2 separate regions of the Homo sapiens genome follow, and region 2 is linked to region 1. The links come from fine-mapping of genetic effects on gene expression. A gene starts in region 1. The other region holds a variant in brackets. All regions are shown on one strand. Distances are between the middles of the regions.

The links. PIP is the estimated chance that this variant, and not a neighbour inherited with it, causes the effect.
Region 2: its variant is fine-mapped to the expression of SRD5A2 in nasal epithelium (TOPMed, PIP 0.94).

The regions. Positions count from the first base shown.
Region 1 is chr2:31,576,056-31,584,055 of GRCh38, forward strand. SRD5A2 (steroid 5 alpha-reductase 2) reads right to left here and starts at 4,883. Exons shown (of 5, transcript NM_000348.4): 1 at 4,565-4,883. The coding sequence starts at 4,845.
Region 2 is chr2:32,236,935-32,245,467 of GRCh38, forward strand. NLRC4 (NLR family CARD domain containing 4) reads right to left here. Exons shown (of 9, transcript NM_001199138.2): 5 at 4,099-4,191; 6 at 1,198-1,368. Among named protein-coding and RNA genes, the nearest start is that of NLRC4, 24 kb to the right of the region's middle. The variant A/G (reference allele first, on the strand shown) is at 4,026.

The sequences.
Region 1 (8,000 bases):
TAGGCATTACCATTCAGGACATAGGCGTGGGCAAGGACTTCATGTCCAAAACACGAAAAGCAATGGCAACAAAAGCCAAAATTGACAAATGGGATCTAATTAAACTAAAGAGCTTCTGCACAGCAAAAGAAACTACCATCAGAGTGAACAGGCAACCTACAAAATGGGAGAAAATTTTCGCAACCTACTCATCTGACAAAGGGCTAATATCCAGAATCTACAATGAACTCAAACAAATTTACAAGAAAAAAACAAACAACCCCATCAAAAAGTGGGCGAAGGACATGAACAGACACTTCTCAAAAGAAGACATTTATGCAGCCAAAAAACACATGAAGAAATGCTCATCATCACTGGCCATCAGAGAAATGCAAATCAAAACCACTATGAGATATCATCTCACACCAGTTAGAATGGCAATCATTAAAAAGTCAGGAAATAACAGGTGCTGGAGAGGATGTGGAGAAATAGGAACACTTTTACACTGTTGGTGGGACTGTAAACTAGTTCAACCATTGTGGAAGTCAGTGTGGCGATTCCTCAGGGATCTAGAACTAGAAATACCATTTGACCCAGCCATCCCAATACTGGGTATATACCCAAAGGACTATAAATCATGCTGCTATAAAGACACATGCACACATATGTTTATTGTGGCACTATTCACAATAGCAAAGACTTGGAACCAACCCAAATGTCCAACAATGATAGACTGGATTAAGAAAATGTGGCACATATACACCATGGAATACTATGCAGCCATAAAAAATGATGAGTTCATGTCCTTTGTAGGGACATGGATGAAATTGGAAACCATCATTCTCAGTAAACTATCGCAAGAACAAAAAACCAAACACCGCATATTCTCACTCATAGGTGGGAATTGAACAATGAGATCACATGGACACAGGAAGGGGAATATCACACTCTGGGAACTGTGGTGGTCTCTGTGTTGGTTTTTCTTATAGCATTGGGAGATATACCTAATGCTAGATGACACGTTAGTGGGTGCAGCGCACCAGCATGGCACATGTATACATATGTAACTAACCTGCACAATGTGCACATGTACCCTAAAACTTAGAGTATAATAAAAAAAAAAACATTAAAAAAAAAAAAAAAAAAAAGAGGTGAGATAACTCTTGACTTCAAATGCCTTTGGCAGTGGGATTAGGCAATGTGCTTAGGCAGCAGTCATTTCCATGTGGCTAAAGAATCCAAACAGCCACAACAATAGATTCTGAAGAGAGGAAAGTTATCTGAATTGACCTAACTATGCAATCTCAGCAATTATGATTCCCAAGTAATTGCTAGCTCTCCTACAATTCTGTCTGTACGGTTGTTGTAAGTAGAGTTCATTCATGCATTCAACAAATTCTAGTGAGTACCAACTATGTACCAGCTCTTTGTATACAATGGGGATACAGCCATAAAAGTGAGACAAAAACCTTTGACCCTGTGGAATCTACATTCTTGTGTGCCATCCTTGTATTGAGAAAAGTACAATGAGTTTTAACTTCTATTTGATGGGACATATTGCTGCTTTGAACAGTCCCCAATGGACATTTTGCAAAAGAGTCTGAGCCAAACCTGAGCCATCCTTTCTCCCTGTCTCTCCGTCTTATTCTCTGTCTTAGCAACACACAGCACGAGATAAAGCCAAGACAGCCTGATGCTTGTTCCTTAATGCACCCTCAGTATCAAGCCAAATGACTCCTTAAGCCTCGAAACAGATATGTATGATTATATCAAGACCCTAAAGAATGTTCATAACCTTTGAACCACTTCTGGAAATCCTAAGAAAATAGATCTAACCTTTGAAAAGAATTTAGATGCAAAAAATGTACATCACAGCTTCAATGAACCTAGCCTCACCCCAAGACAAATTAAATGTCCAACTATAAATGAATATATAGGTAAATTATTATTTTTACAGTAGATGAAATAAGCAGATATTAAGAAATCTGTGATAATGTTGGAAAATACTATAAAATGTTAGGTAATTAAACAGAACTAAAAAACCATATATTCAACATAACAAGCATGTGTGAAAATCTACTAAGGAAAAAGATTTGATAGAAATTCTCTAAAACATTAATATTTAATATACTTAGATGTAATTATGAGTATTTTCTACTTTTGGGATTTTTCCATTTTTCATTAGGAAAAAATGTTTTTATAATTTAAAAAATTTTTACATAATAATTTTAAGAATAAATATAGTTTTTAAAAAGCAAGAATGAGGTCGCATTTATCCAACAAGTATACAACAGTTTATTATCATACCTGAAGAGCCTGAGATCTGGAGTCTACTGCCTGGGTTTGAACTCTGATTCCTCGTTATTGTGTGACCTTGGGCAAGGAAGTTATTTAACCTTTTCTTGCTCCAGTTTTCCACCTGCAAAATGGGCGTGCCTACCTAAATGGGTTGGTATGAGGATGAGTAAATTATTTACTCAGAGTGTTTGGCACACAGAGTGTAACACCCTGTAAGCACTCAAATAATAACAGATCACACACTCCAGTGGCTTCAAAGAAAGAATTCAAAAAAGAGGAAAGACAAACATCAGATCCCGATGCCTCAGGAACAAGTAGCTCAAGAGTTGTACTTCCAGTGGGCAATTTTCCCTCAGGCAGAATGAATCTCCAAGTCCTTTACTAATATTTTAAAATTTCCTCTGAAGAAGGACAATATGTAGATATTTGTTTTATGCATAATTACTCCTTTGGGTTTTTTTTTAAATGCACCGGTCATAATGTATTGTGCAAAGTGCCTTTTGATTTCAAAAACAAGCCTAAAGATTACATTAATATGATTGTCACAAAACACTAATCATTAAGATGAAATGACCTCATAAAAATATTGCTTATGTTGCCAACATACAGTAGTTAATTTGAAGATAAAAATAATTGTTGACAAAAATCACATTTCTGTCAAATGTCTGTTCAAAAATCAGTGAAATAAAAAACTAATCTCTTATCTCCTGTATCCAACATCCTTCTTTCTGTGCAAATTAAACCATCTAAATCTGAGTAAAATAAAATCTGTGTAAAATAAAGAATCTTGTTCACAGCAGGCTTTTAGTAAATATTTGTTGAAAGGATACAGTTTAGTTCTTATTACTTGACAACATTTGCCTTTTAAAAAGAGTGAGAATTCAGTTAAGATTGCATAAATATTAAATCTTGACCAATAAAGAAGATTCAGAGGATAAGAGGAAATTAAGAAAGACAGTTTGAAATCCGTCTCTGACACCTTCTTCTCTCGAAATGAGGCATCACTTTCTCTTTACGAGACAGATTATGCCAGAGGCATTCTTTATCCTAATTTCTAATCCAAACTTCCTTGATCTTTTGACCCTAGGAATCTTCTACTCAAAATAAGGCAAAACCTTCAAGGTTTTGATTTCGTTTGATAACTTTTCTCTGTTTATGGGCTCTGTTCTCTTCTTGCATAGAATATCTGCCTACTTAAAACGGCTAAAAGGTCTTAAACCTCAGAGATTCACAAGCTCAGATTTGCATCTTAGCGGGCACCAGCTGTATTGTCTTCTTTCAGTCCCATAACCTTACTCAGCCTCAGTTTCTTTGTAAAGTGGACATAATAAATATCTCTCAAAAGGTTACAACAGAGTTAAGTGAGACCATAGATACTAAACGATTGGGCATGGTAGGCAATTTAACAATGTGTTCGTTCTTCCCTTTCCCTGTGAGACTTTACTGAGGCTGGACAGTCTTTCTCTGAACCCTGACATCCCTTGGTCTCTTTCCTGTCTTTCCTTCCCAGAGCAGAAAGCAAAGTTCTCCTGAACCCGGATTTTTTAAATCTAGAAGAACATTTGAGCTGTAAGTTACCCACTCACATTTCAAGTCCCAGGGAAATTGGAAAGGTAGATGAATTGGTGGTGTGCTTGGTCCCTTTTGGGAGGGGCCTAAGAAGCGGGGACCCTCGCTTGAGTCAGTGGGATCTCACTATATTCTCTTCCCCATCTGTGAAGTCTGGATTTGGGCTCTACCCACCTTCCTCCTTAGACCTGCAAAGACTAAATCAATGAGAACCTCTGAGCTGAGTTTCCCTCGGGAGATGCCAAACGCGTAAGACTCTCCCAAGATCCCAGAACTAATCTGTCCCCACCCTGCAAGGAAAAGGTGAAGGAAGAAAGGGAAGCGGGGCGGGGCGCGATATGCCACAGGTAACCGCCGCCTGCGCGCAGTTAAGGAACAGTCCTGTCCAATAGGTCTCCCCAACCTGAGCTTTCCAGGTCGCCTCCCGCCCGCAGGACCTCTTTCTCTCGAGCAGCCAGAGGATTTGGAGCTGCTGAGAGCGGATGAGGTCCTGGGGGAGTGAAGGCGGCGTCTGTGCCGCAGCCGCTTGTCAACTCTCTAGCGTCCAAGCCCCGGCCCCGGCCCCCGCCAGGTGCGCCAGGCAGGCTGGCCTCCGCGTTCCTCACAGCGCCCCACGCTGCCTCCTTGGCGTTCCTCGGTGCGCGCTCCACGCTGCGCTCCTGGACGCCGGGAGCAGGGCAGTGCGCTGCACTGGGCGCCCGCAAGGGAAAAACGCTACCTGTGGAAGTAATGTAGGCAGAAGAGGCCCAGAAGTACCGTCCCAGGTGGCCCGAAGAGGGAGAGGGGCTGCCGGGCGAGGATCCCCGCGGGCACCGCGAAGGAAGGCAGCTCCTGCAGGAACCAGGCGGCGCGGGCTGGCAGGCGGGTAGCCGCCGGCTTCAGGCTCTCCGTGTGCTTCCCGTAGCCGGAGGGCTTCGCGACGTACAAGGCCAGTGCCCCAAGGGCGACCAAAGTGGCGCTGCCTGCCAGCACTGGGCTCTGCTGGCACTGAACCTGCATCGCGCCGTGTTCCTCGCCGGTGGCCGCTGCCCTCCCAGAAGAGAGCGCGGCCCCCGCAACCCCTTTATGGAGCGCCAGACGCCACCCGTGTCCGCCCCCTCGGCCTTGGCTCCCGCCCCTCCATCCTGCCTCCCACCTCGCCGCGTCCAGCCCTGGCGCGGTTCGCAGCAATACCCCTTTCTCAAGGATGCAGCCGCGGTGGCCGGAGGAGAACGAAGGCCTTCTTAGTTCGCCCGCCCTCTCCACGGCTTTACATTCACCTCCCGCTTAGGCTGTCCTTCCATGACTTGTTCCTCAACTATTAGCGTCTGATGCGCATACTTCTGGAACTAAGACACGGGAAGAAAACCCCACGGGGACGATTCAGCTGGGGTGGTTCTTCCGCCCCAACACACACCCTCTGTGCCGTCGGTCACCACGCAGTCCCACCCTCGAACACCCAAGCCAAGGTCTTTCCATCTCCTCCGGTTCCTCATGCACTTTCACTCCCTCACAGCTCCCACCCAACATAGGACCTTCCTTGGACCCTGAACCATCCTGGCTCTCTGAGCGTCTGCCAGCCCTTCTGCTCTGGGGCGCCGCGCTCCTTAGCCACTCTCAGCATCAGTGCCAGCTCTGCCCCACCACACGCCCCCGGCAGGTACCAGTCTCTCCCGGCCCTAATTCCTCAGCGGTTTCTCTCTGCATCCCCGCACGCGTCCCTGAGCCGCCTGCCTGGGTCAGAGAGGAGCGTCCGCTGAGCTCGGGTGATCATGCACAGATTGGGGCCAGAAGTCGAGATTCTGCGCGTCCTCTCCCGCCACCCCACTCCCGGTCCCCTAGAGTGGCCCAGACTCAGGCTAAAGTCTAGGGCTTCTTTCCTGGGATGCCCTTTCCCAGCTCCTAGAGCCAATGAGCCGTGGCCCATCAGGTGGTGGCCTGGCGACCCCGCTGTTCTCTGAACTCCTGTCTAGCCGTCATACACGCAGACGCGGTTCTTTCTCTCTTCCGTTTCCCACCTTTATGTTATCCTCCAGCCCCTCCGTCTTCTACCTCTTCCGTTCTATGATTCAGCTTCCAGGCTTTCTTGGCTGCCTCCTCCTCTGTTTCCCAACCCTTCTTTTCTTCTCTTCCTTCTTTCTTCGACCCGGCTTTCTCCTTTAGGTTGACCTCCTCTTCCCACCTGCTGTTTACCTCATTCTTTCATCTTCCTGTCCCATCTCCCTTGATTACTTTATCCCTGTTTTCTCCTCTGGTCCCTACTTGGGGCTCCACCCCAGTCCTTCTCATTTTTCACTCTTCCCTTACTTTGGAGGTCTCTTCTCTTCCTTCCCCTTCAACTCACGCCTCCCAGGAGCCCCATTCAGTGTATCTCCATCCACTTCTGCTGGATCAGGCCAGCTGGTCCAATGACAGACACAACCCCTCATCTGCTCCCGTTTGGGGTGTCTCCTGATTCTTGGCACACATGGTATATGGTGATGCTTTAGCACTACAGGGCACCCTCTGCTTGCTGACCAAGAGTCGTTTATCATATTCCCATTGGGTTATAATTAATGCTAATCATACTTCAGTTTTTAATTGATCACCACTTTGGAATCACTCATACTGACCGAAGCATTTTTCATGGAAAAGCCAGGTCTTAGCCATCATAGCCGTTTCAAGCTTTTTTTGCACTGGCTTTAGAGTACAAGTCCAGTCCCAGCTTCCTCAGCTACAACCTGCTTGTTGAAGATGCCCAAATCTAGATTGCCAGCAAAGATATGAGCTTTAGCTCTGCGTTTTCTCCCTGCTGGAAAACTCCACTTACATGTCCTTCAGAGACCTCAAAACCAGCCCTACCCAAAACTAAACCCAGTTATTTTTCCCTCCACCCACTTGGACCCAAATTCTCCTTCTATGTTCCTGAGTGTTACCTCTTCCCTGTCCTCAATTGCCATAGCCTCCCTAGGAAGCTGGCTCATAGACTCAGTAAACAATAGATTTCATGATACCATACAGCATTAGGAGAACAGGCAGTGCACTATTTCAAACCCAGCTCAATGGAATATTTTTTTAAATGAAATGTCTTCTGTCTCAATTTCTTCCTCTCTTTTCTTCCGACTCTGCCCACTTTTTGTCCTCATGATCTTTTCTCCACTATTATAACAATTAGCTTGATAAAACCAGTCATCTTCAGCTTATGCATCTGTGGGTTGGCTGTGGGTCAGAAATCTGGGCTGGGCTTGACTTATCTTAACAATATTCACTCATTCATCTGTGTAACAAGTTAGAGCCCAGCTCCAGGCTGTGTTTGGATGGAGAAACTTAGCTGAGGCTCTCATCCTGGGATGAGTGAGCTAGCTCCACCATGTCTATATAATGTTAATAACAAAAGTACGAGAGTAGAAGAAACACACAAGGCCTCTTCAGGCTCAGGCCAAGAACAAGCACACCCTTACTTCCTATTTATTGTATTGGCCAAATCAAGTCATATGGTGGATTCTAGAGCCAAAGTGAGAGACTATTTGTAAAGTTACATGGTAAAGGGCAGGGATATAGTGGGAGGTAGAAAATTGGAACCAATAATGCAACTGGTCTGTATTACATGCAAGAAGAAAGTGCCCAATTATAAATATACAGCTTGGTTGATTTGCACAAACTGAACACCCTCTTGCAAGCTGCACCTAGGTCAAGATACAGATTATCAGCATATCAGGATCTGTGCTCCTGCCTCCTTACATCCTCCTTCCAGGAAAAAAAAAAAAAACAAAAAAAAAGCAAAAAAAAAACCAAAAAAAAAGCAAAAAAAAAAAACACCACTACCCTGACTTCTAACACCATAAGTTAATTTTGTCTGCTTTTGAATTTCGGGTAAGTGGAATCATACAGTACTTACTCTTTTTAATCAATGTGGTAACATATGCAGACACAGAAATGACTATCGTGAAGGAAAAGGTTTATATCGACAGATCCCTACAAACAGAAGACACAGCACACCACCCAAGACCACATGGAGAAGCACCAGTGTTAGGAGGCAGCTGGAGTGAGGGGTCAAGGTGGGCAAGAGCCTTTACTGTAGTTTCTGCAGGAAAGAGTGGGCATGACAAGGTAATCAGGCTTAGGATTAGCTCGTTTGAATACTTTTAGCAGGCTCTGGGGTACAGCGGCTGTCTTTACTTTTCTGTTACCTGGAC
Region 2 (8,533 bases), 660 kb after region 1:
CTAAACACTCCAATTAAAAGGCAGAGATAATCAGATATTCAGAACTTTTTTTAAAGCAAGACCCAGTTTTATGCTGTGTACAAAAGACGTGTTTGAATGACAAAGACACAAATATGTTGAGGTAATGGAAAACTATTTTGCATGCAAACATTAATTATATAATAGTACCAGTCTAGCTAAGAATTGCTTAGTGCTTTTCTTCACATATTATCACTCTTGCTTAATCTAGCTGAAGTTTTTTCTGTCAGGGCTAGAAAAATCTCCTTTTTAAAAAAATCAGACAAGTTTTTCATGAATATGTACTCTTGTTATAATATTGGCTATTATTATTTTTAATCAATCATATGAGCCCTTTTCTTAAAGTATCTTCTGGGTTTTGTGCTCTACAATAAAAAACCTGCTGAACTTCTCTTTAAAAGAGTACGTTTGCTATTTGCAGTTCTAAGCCTGTCTCTCCCCATCAGTAAGTAGAGAAATAAAGGCATGTGCTCATTGTTCTCATATTCCCAGTACTTATCCAGCCTTTTTCAACTGTGGGTTTCTCTAGCTGTAACTTTATATTAGTATACAAATGGCTTCCTTAGTTATCTTTAGAGACTCCCAGCAGTTATATAGTTTAACTTTAAAAAGATTATACCACTGTTTTCCAAAATCTAAATTTTAAAATATGTCTGAATTACACATGTATAGTTTATCCAGAAATATGCAGTTAGTTTCCCCGTAGTTGATATGCATCCCTTTGGGAACTCAGAAGGCTCAATTATCATATCATGCACATTAACTTCATCTTAACAGGGCAATGGGTAGGAATTAGAAGCCTGAGATCATTTAAGAAAATCTTTATCTCTCACTTCTCAATCATTTATCCATTCATTTAAATGTTTATTAGGCAGTAAATTATATGACCGGTTGTGTGGCAAGTTTCAAGCACCTATTTCTTATTTTCTTCCTTTTCACTTTCTCTAAAAATTACATCTTCAATTATTCTGAAATTCTCCCCTATTATCCATCAATAGTTGATTTAATTCTAATATGGAGAAAAATCATTAAAAACAATCTGCTTATTATCGAGAAGTTTTTATTTTCCAGTTTTCCTTAAAATTAAATTTCCATTTGAGACATTTAGTGTGAATTAGTATAATAGTATCACATGTTCTGTTATACTGTCCTCATTCAGTTAATGGAAGCAACAGTTACCTAGGATTTTCACTGCATTTGCAGACAAGCAGCAGGAGACTAATTGAATTTCTTCAAGGTCACAGGGTTCACTTGACAGAGACTTGACTATGTAATCCATTCCCTCTCCAATGTCAGACAAGTGGGTCAAATGAAATAAACACATCTTCTTCAGGTTTTTCAGGCCTTCAGCTGAAAAATGATAGAAAGGAATGCATTAGGATACCAAGTTAATTCGATTTAAGCATAGATTAATGAACTGAAAAGAAAGCAAAGAATAATTGTGCAGAGACCTTGCCATGTTCTTCCTGCAGCGACTTTAAGTTACAAAGAATCAACGAGAGCTTTTTTTCTTTCAATTCTCACTTTCCAGTCTCTTGGACCACACAAAAAATCACTTATATGGAGGTTATTCTCTTAGTAGCATGAGAAACACTGTAGTAAATTTGTAGTCTTTTTAATGGGCATCAATGTATACTCTTACCGTAATTCTTTACATGAATGAAGTCTTCTAGAGCACTCTCCTTTCAATCTTCTCAAAAATCTTAAACAGCGGGGGGGCTGAGTTCAGGGAGGTAGATGAGGACTTGGCTCCTTGGAGTGCTTCTAGTGCAACTGTCTACAGCCTCAAAAGCCTTGCCTGGACTCATGATATGGGGCCTGCCTGAAGCTTTAGAATGAAGACCACATCCACTGCAGCATGTTTAACCAGAAGAAAGATTTACCTTATATCAACAGTATAATTGGAAACATTCTAAAATATCCCCCGTTCTTAAGTCTAAAGCTAATGTGCAGTTTAGGATTGGTTAGGCCTCACTTTGTGTCATTAAAATACTGTCTTATCTTGATGGTACTGTAGCCTACGGGAAAGAAATATATGATTTTAATGACCAGGCATGGTGGCTCACACCTGTAATCCCAGCACTATGGGAGGCAGTGATAGGCGAATCACCTGAGGTCAGGAGTTCAAGACCAGCCTGTCCAACATGGCGGAACCCCATCTCTACTAAAAATACAAAAATTAGCTGGGCGTGATGGTGCACACCTGTAATCTCAGCTACTTCGGAGGTTGAGGCATTAGAATCGCTTGAACCCAGGAGGCAGAGGTTGCAGTGAGCCAACATCTCACCACTGCACTCCAGCCTGGGCGACAGAGCGAGACTCCCATCTCAAAGAAAAGAAAAGAAAAGAAATAAAATATATGATTCTAATAATATCAGTCTTGCAGAGCTTTCGGGAAGGTTGCAGATAATGTACGTTAACATATTTAATGTGGTGCCTGGCACATAGTAAGTGCTCCATAAATGTTCATTGTTGTCATGGGAGTATATACCGGTTAAAGGTTGTGAGCATGAGCTTTGCAGTCAGTTCCTGGATCCCCTACTTAATAATTATAAACTTGGGCAAGTTATTCAATCTTTTAGCTGAAGCGTTAGGGATCATTATATCTATGTACTAGGACTGTTGTGGGGATTCAATGGAATGAGGTATATAAAACTGCCGAGGCTAGTGTCTAATCTATAGCAGAGTAACTCTTTAATAAAGAGTAAATTATTACTGATATAATTAGACTGGTTTAGTCAAGTTCACATTTTGATTCCTTAATAGCAGAAGCAGGCTATCCTAGAGAGGTACTTTTTGACCTCTTTCTACCAGTTGGTAAGATCTTGAGCAAGTCAATAAGCTATTTTAGGTTCTAGTGGAGTTTTCTGTGAAATGAATGAGTTGAATTAGATGCTCTCAATCCCCTTCCAGCTCTGATTTTCTGTGTAATTTATACACATGCAATAAATGTTTATTGAACACTGAATTAATTTGATTATTCTCACGTAGGACATATAAGGAAAAGAAGTCAGCCATGTTTTGCTTTTGTTTTTGTTTTTGTTTCAAGATGGAGTCTATCTCTGTCACCGAGGCTGGAGTGCAGTGGAGCAATCTCGGCTCACTACAACCTCCTCCTCCTGAGTTCAAGTGATTATCCTTCCTCAGCCTCCCAAGTAGCTGGCATTACAGGTGCATACCACCATGCCCAGCTAATTTTTGTATTTTTAGTAGAGACAGGGTTTCACCATGTTGGCCAGGCTGGTCTCGAACTCCTGAACTCAGGTGATCCATCTGCCTCGGCCTCCCAGAGTGCTGGAATTACAGGTGTGATCCACCATGCCCAGGCTTCAGCCATGTTTGGCTTATAGGCTAGAGTTGTCTTTCGGCAGGAAGCAGAATAAGAAAGAACAAGATGAAGGGAAGAGAGGAGTATTTTAGTGAGGACTCAAGTAGGGAAAAAAAGAGCCAAAAAAAAAAAAAAAAAAAATCCAACACACGAGAAAACAGGGACATTCAAGGAAAGCAGCTTTAACAGGAATCCTCCCTGGCCTGCAGGGCCTGGTTCCCTGTGGTAAGCCATGTGTTCTGCTTGTGTTCCTGAAGTTTCCTTTTCCTTTTCATTTTTTTGATTGGGGAAACACAACCTGCAGTGTAGAATGAAAGCATGCTTCCCCCAAAGTTTTCTTGATTCACATTGTTTCCTGTGTCCTATTTCATTTATGAATTTTTTTAACTATGAAACCATAGTATAAACTTTAAAATATTGTTTCTATGCAACTATGAAACTATACTATAAACTTTAAAATATTGTTTCTATGCATTAAATAAAAACATAGCCAATGAGCCAGGGAGACGGAAGTTAAAAACACGTCAGGGGCTCTCTTCCCAAAAGGGTTACCATCTGGTGTTGTACAATTTGAATAAAATGATGCTGAAGGATTTTAATGGCAGTAGGGAAAATGTCTGGGGAAACCAATGTAGCCACAAGTACATAAAAACATCCTTGCCTTGTGCAGACACAGCCA[A/G]TGTCAGAGCCTGAAGTTAACTCCTCTTATTATCAAACTTACATTGATACAAATATGAGAACAGAAATCTGACCTAGTTTTATAGCATCTTCTTCATTCATCTTTATGTTATCCATTATGAGCTTTGTAAGGTTCTTCAAGTTACCCAAGCTGTCAGTCAGACCACCTGTCAAAAGAAAAAAGATTGGACTCTTTCAGCAGATATTTGCTATTTACTATGTCATTTACTATTACTGTCATTTTTGTTACCAATCAAAAGATTTTAATGATCATCATGAGCCAAAAATGCTCATGAAATAGACATAAAAATATACTTTTTATAAGAGATGGGCATTATACTTCACTGTAAGCATGTTCTGCAAATAATAGACTAGATACCAATTTCCCAGATAACAGGGAAAAAAATTTCCTTTTTTTTTTTTTTTTTTTTTTTTTGAGACAGAGTCTTGCTCTGTCGCCCAGGCTAGAGTGCAGTGGCGCAATCTCAGCTCACTGCCAGCTCCACCTCCCGGGTTCACACCATTCTCCTGCCTCAGCCTCCCAAGTAGCTGGGACTACAGGCACCTGCCACCACGCCCGGCTAATTTTTTTTGTATTTTTAGTAGAGACGGGGTTTCACCATGTTAGCCAGGATGGTCTCAATCTCCTGACCTCGTGATCCGCCTGCCTCGGCCTCCCGAAGTGCTGGGATTACAGGCGTGAGCCACTGCGCCTGGCCGATAACAGGGAAATTTCTAAACACTTGGAAATTAAACAACACATTTTTAAATAATCATGCATTAAAGAAGAAGTCTCATGGAAACTTTGATAATATTTTGAAAAATATAAAAATAAAAACAAAACTTCAAAATCTGCAGCTCTCTCCTCACAAAGGGGTGAAAAGAAAAAAAAATCTGCAGCTAACACAGTGCTTACAGGGACATTTACAGTATTGCATACTTATATTAGAAATGAGGAAAGGCCTCAAATCAACAACCTAGGCATACTACTTAAGAAATTACAGAAAAGAGAGCAAAATAAATGAAAGAAGAAAGAAAATAATAAAGATAAGGGTGCAAATCAAAGTTATTATGCCTTTATTATACAAATTAAAAACAGAGGCAAGGTCTCACTATGTTGCCCAGGCTGGTCTCGGACTCCTGAGCACAAGTGATCCTTTGGCCTCAGCCTCCCAAAGTGCTAGGATTACAGGCGTGAGCCACCATGCCCAGCCCAGAAATCAAAATTATAAACAGGTAAACAATAGAAAAAAATCAATGAAGCTAAAAGTTGGATCTTTGAAAAGATCAATAAAATTTAAAAATTTCTACCAAGACTGACAAAGAAAAAGAAGACAAAAATTACCAATATCAGAAACAAAAAAGGGGATATCACTACACACACTGCAGATATTAAAAGGACAATTAGAGAATAATATAAACAAATCTATGCACATAAATTTGACAACATATATGAAATTGACCAATTTTTTGAAAACCACAAACTACCAACACTCATGTGATACGGAGTAGGTAACCGGAATAACCTTATAGCTATTAAAGAAATTGAATTTGTTATCTAAAATTTCCCGGAAAAGACATCTGTAGGCACAGATATGTTCACTTGCAAATTCTGCCACACATTTTCATTTTTTTCCTTCTATCAACTGTCTTCATATCTACCACACATTTAAAGAAGAAATAACACCAATTCTACACAGTCACTTCCAGAAAATAGAAGTACAAAGAATAATTCCCAACTCATTTTATGAAGCCATCATTAACTTGATATGAAAACCAGAAAAAGACGTAGAAGAAAAACTTTTAGGCCAGGCACAGTGGCTCACTCCTATAATCCCCGTGCTTTGGGGGGCAGAGGTAGGAGGATCACTTGAGGCCAGGAGTTTGAGACCAGCCTGGGCAATATATCCAGACCCTATCCCTACAAAATATTTTTTAAATTACCCAGGTGTGGTGGCAGGTGTGAGTAGTCCTGGCTACTCAGGAGGCTGAGGCAAGAGAATCGCTTGAGCCCAGGAGTTCAAGATTGCAATGAAGTGTGATGACACCACTGCACTCCAGCCTTGGTGACAGAATGAGACAATGTCTTTAATGAAAGAAAGAGAGAGAGAGAGAGAATAGAGAAAGAAAGGAGGGAGGGAAGGACGGAAAAGAAAAGAAAGAAAATTGAGGCTGGGCGAGGTGGCTCACACCTGTAATCCCAGCACTTTGGGAGGGCGAGGCAGGCAAATCACGAGGTCAGGAGTTTGACACCAGCCTGGCCAACATGGTGAAACTCCGTCTCTACTAAAAATACAAAAAATCAGCTGGGTGTAGTGGCAGGCGCCTGTAATCCCAGCTAGTCCAGAGGCTGAGGCAGGAGAATCGCTTGAACCCAGGAGGCAGAGGTTGCAGTGAGCTGAGATCGCACCACTGCACTCCAGCCCTGGTGACAGAGTGAGACCCCATCTCGAAAAGAAAGAAAGAAAATTAAACTTTAGACCAATATCATTCATGAATACAGAATCAAAAATCTTCAACAAAATAGAAAATGGAATTCAGTCATGCATAAAAGAATATTACGGCAGGCGTGGTGGCTCACACTTGTAATCCCAGCACTTTGGGAGGCCGAGGCAGGTGGATCACAAGGTCAGGAGTTTGAGACCAGCCTGGCCAACATGGTGAAACCCTGTCTCTACTAAAAATACAAAAATTAGCTGGGCGTGGTGGCGCGCCTGTAGTCCCAGCTACTTGGGAGGCTGAGGCAGGAGAATTGCTTGAACCCAGGAGGCGGCGGTTGCAGTGAGCCGAGATCGCATCATTGCACTCAGCCTGGTGACACAGCAAGATTCCATCTCAAAAAAAAAAAAAAAAAGAATATTACACCACCTCCAAATGGGCTTCATATAGGGAATGCAGGATGCTCAATATGTGGAAATCAATCCATATAATTCATTATATTGGCAGTCTAAAAGTAAAACTACGTGATCCCATAAATTGATGCAGAAAACACATGTGACATAATCCAACATCCAGGCTAGGTGGCTCACGCCTGTAATCCCAGCACTTCGGGAGGCCCAGGCGGGAAAATCTCTTGAGCACAGGAGTCCAAGACCAGCCTGGGCAACATAGCGAGAACTCGTCTCTACAAAAAATTTAAAAATTAACCAGATGTGATAGTTCACACTTATGGTCCCAGCTAGTCAGGAGGCTGAGGTGGGTGGATCTGTTGAGCCCAGGAAGTCAAGGCTACAGTGAGCTATGATCACGCCACTGCACTCCAGCCTGGGTGACAGAACAAGACCCTGCCTCAAAAATAATCTAAAAATAATTTAATAAAAACAATCCAACATCCATCCATGTAAAATGACATGATCATATAAATGGATACAGAAAACATCTTTAGCACAATCCAACACCTATTCATGACCAAAAAAAAAAAATTCTCAGCAACTTGATAAAAGACACCTACAAGAAAACTACATTTAACATTATACTTAAAGGTGAAAGTCTGAATGCTTTCTCCCTAAGGTCAGGAACAAGGCAAGATGTTAATTCATGTCACTATTCAACATTGTACTACAAGTCCTAGTTAGTGAAATAAGGCAAAAAAAAAAAATAAATAAAAGGAATACAGATTGGAAGGGAAGAATTTAAAATCATTCTTTTCGAAGATAACATGATTGTCTATGATAAAAATGTCAAGGAATCTACAACACCCCCTTCTGCAAACCCCACAAAAAAAACCCTTCTAAAACTGGCTGGGTGCAGTGGCTCATACATATAATCCTAGCAGTTTGCGAGACTGATGGGGAGGATCACTTGAGCCCAGGAGTTCAAGACTGGCCTTGGCAACATAGAGAGACCTCCTCTCTACAAAAAAGAAGGAGGAGGAGGAGGAGGAGAGGGAGAGAGGGGGAGGGGGAAGGAGAGGGGAAGGGAGAGGAAGAAGGAGGAGGAGGAGGAGAAGGAGGAGGAAGAGGAGGAGAATGAGAAGAGAAAAAATTAGTGAGGTAGCGAGGTGTGGTGGCACATGTCAGTGGTCCCAGCGACTTAGGAGGCTGAGCATTATGTAGAAAATGGGATTATAGACCGGGCACGGTGGCTCATGCCTGTAATCCCAGCAATTTGGGTAGCCGAGGTGGGTGGATCACTTGAGGTCTGGAGTTCAAGGCCAGCCTGGTCAACATGGTGAAACCCTGTCTCTATTAAAAAATACAAAAATTAGCCAGGCGTGTTATTGGGCGCCTGTAATCCCAGCTACTCAGGAGGCTGAGGTAAGAGAATCACTTGAACCTGGGAGGCAGAGGTTGCAGTAAGCCGAGATCACACCACTGCACCCCAGCCTGGGCGACAGAGTGAGACTCCTTCTCAAAAAAAAAAAAAAAAAAAAAAACAGATGAATAGAGGTCATTATGGTAAGTGAAATAAGCCAGGCACAGAAAGACAGACATCACGTGTTCTTACTTATTTGTAGGATCTAAAAATCAAAACAATTGAACTCACGGAGAGTAGAAGGATGGTTACCAG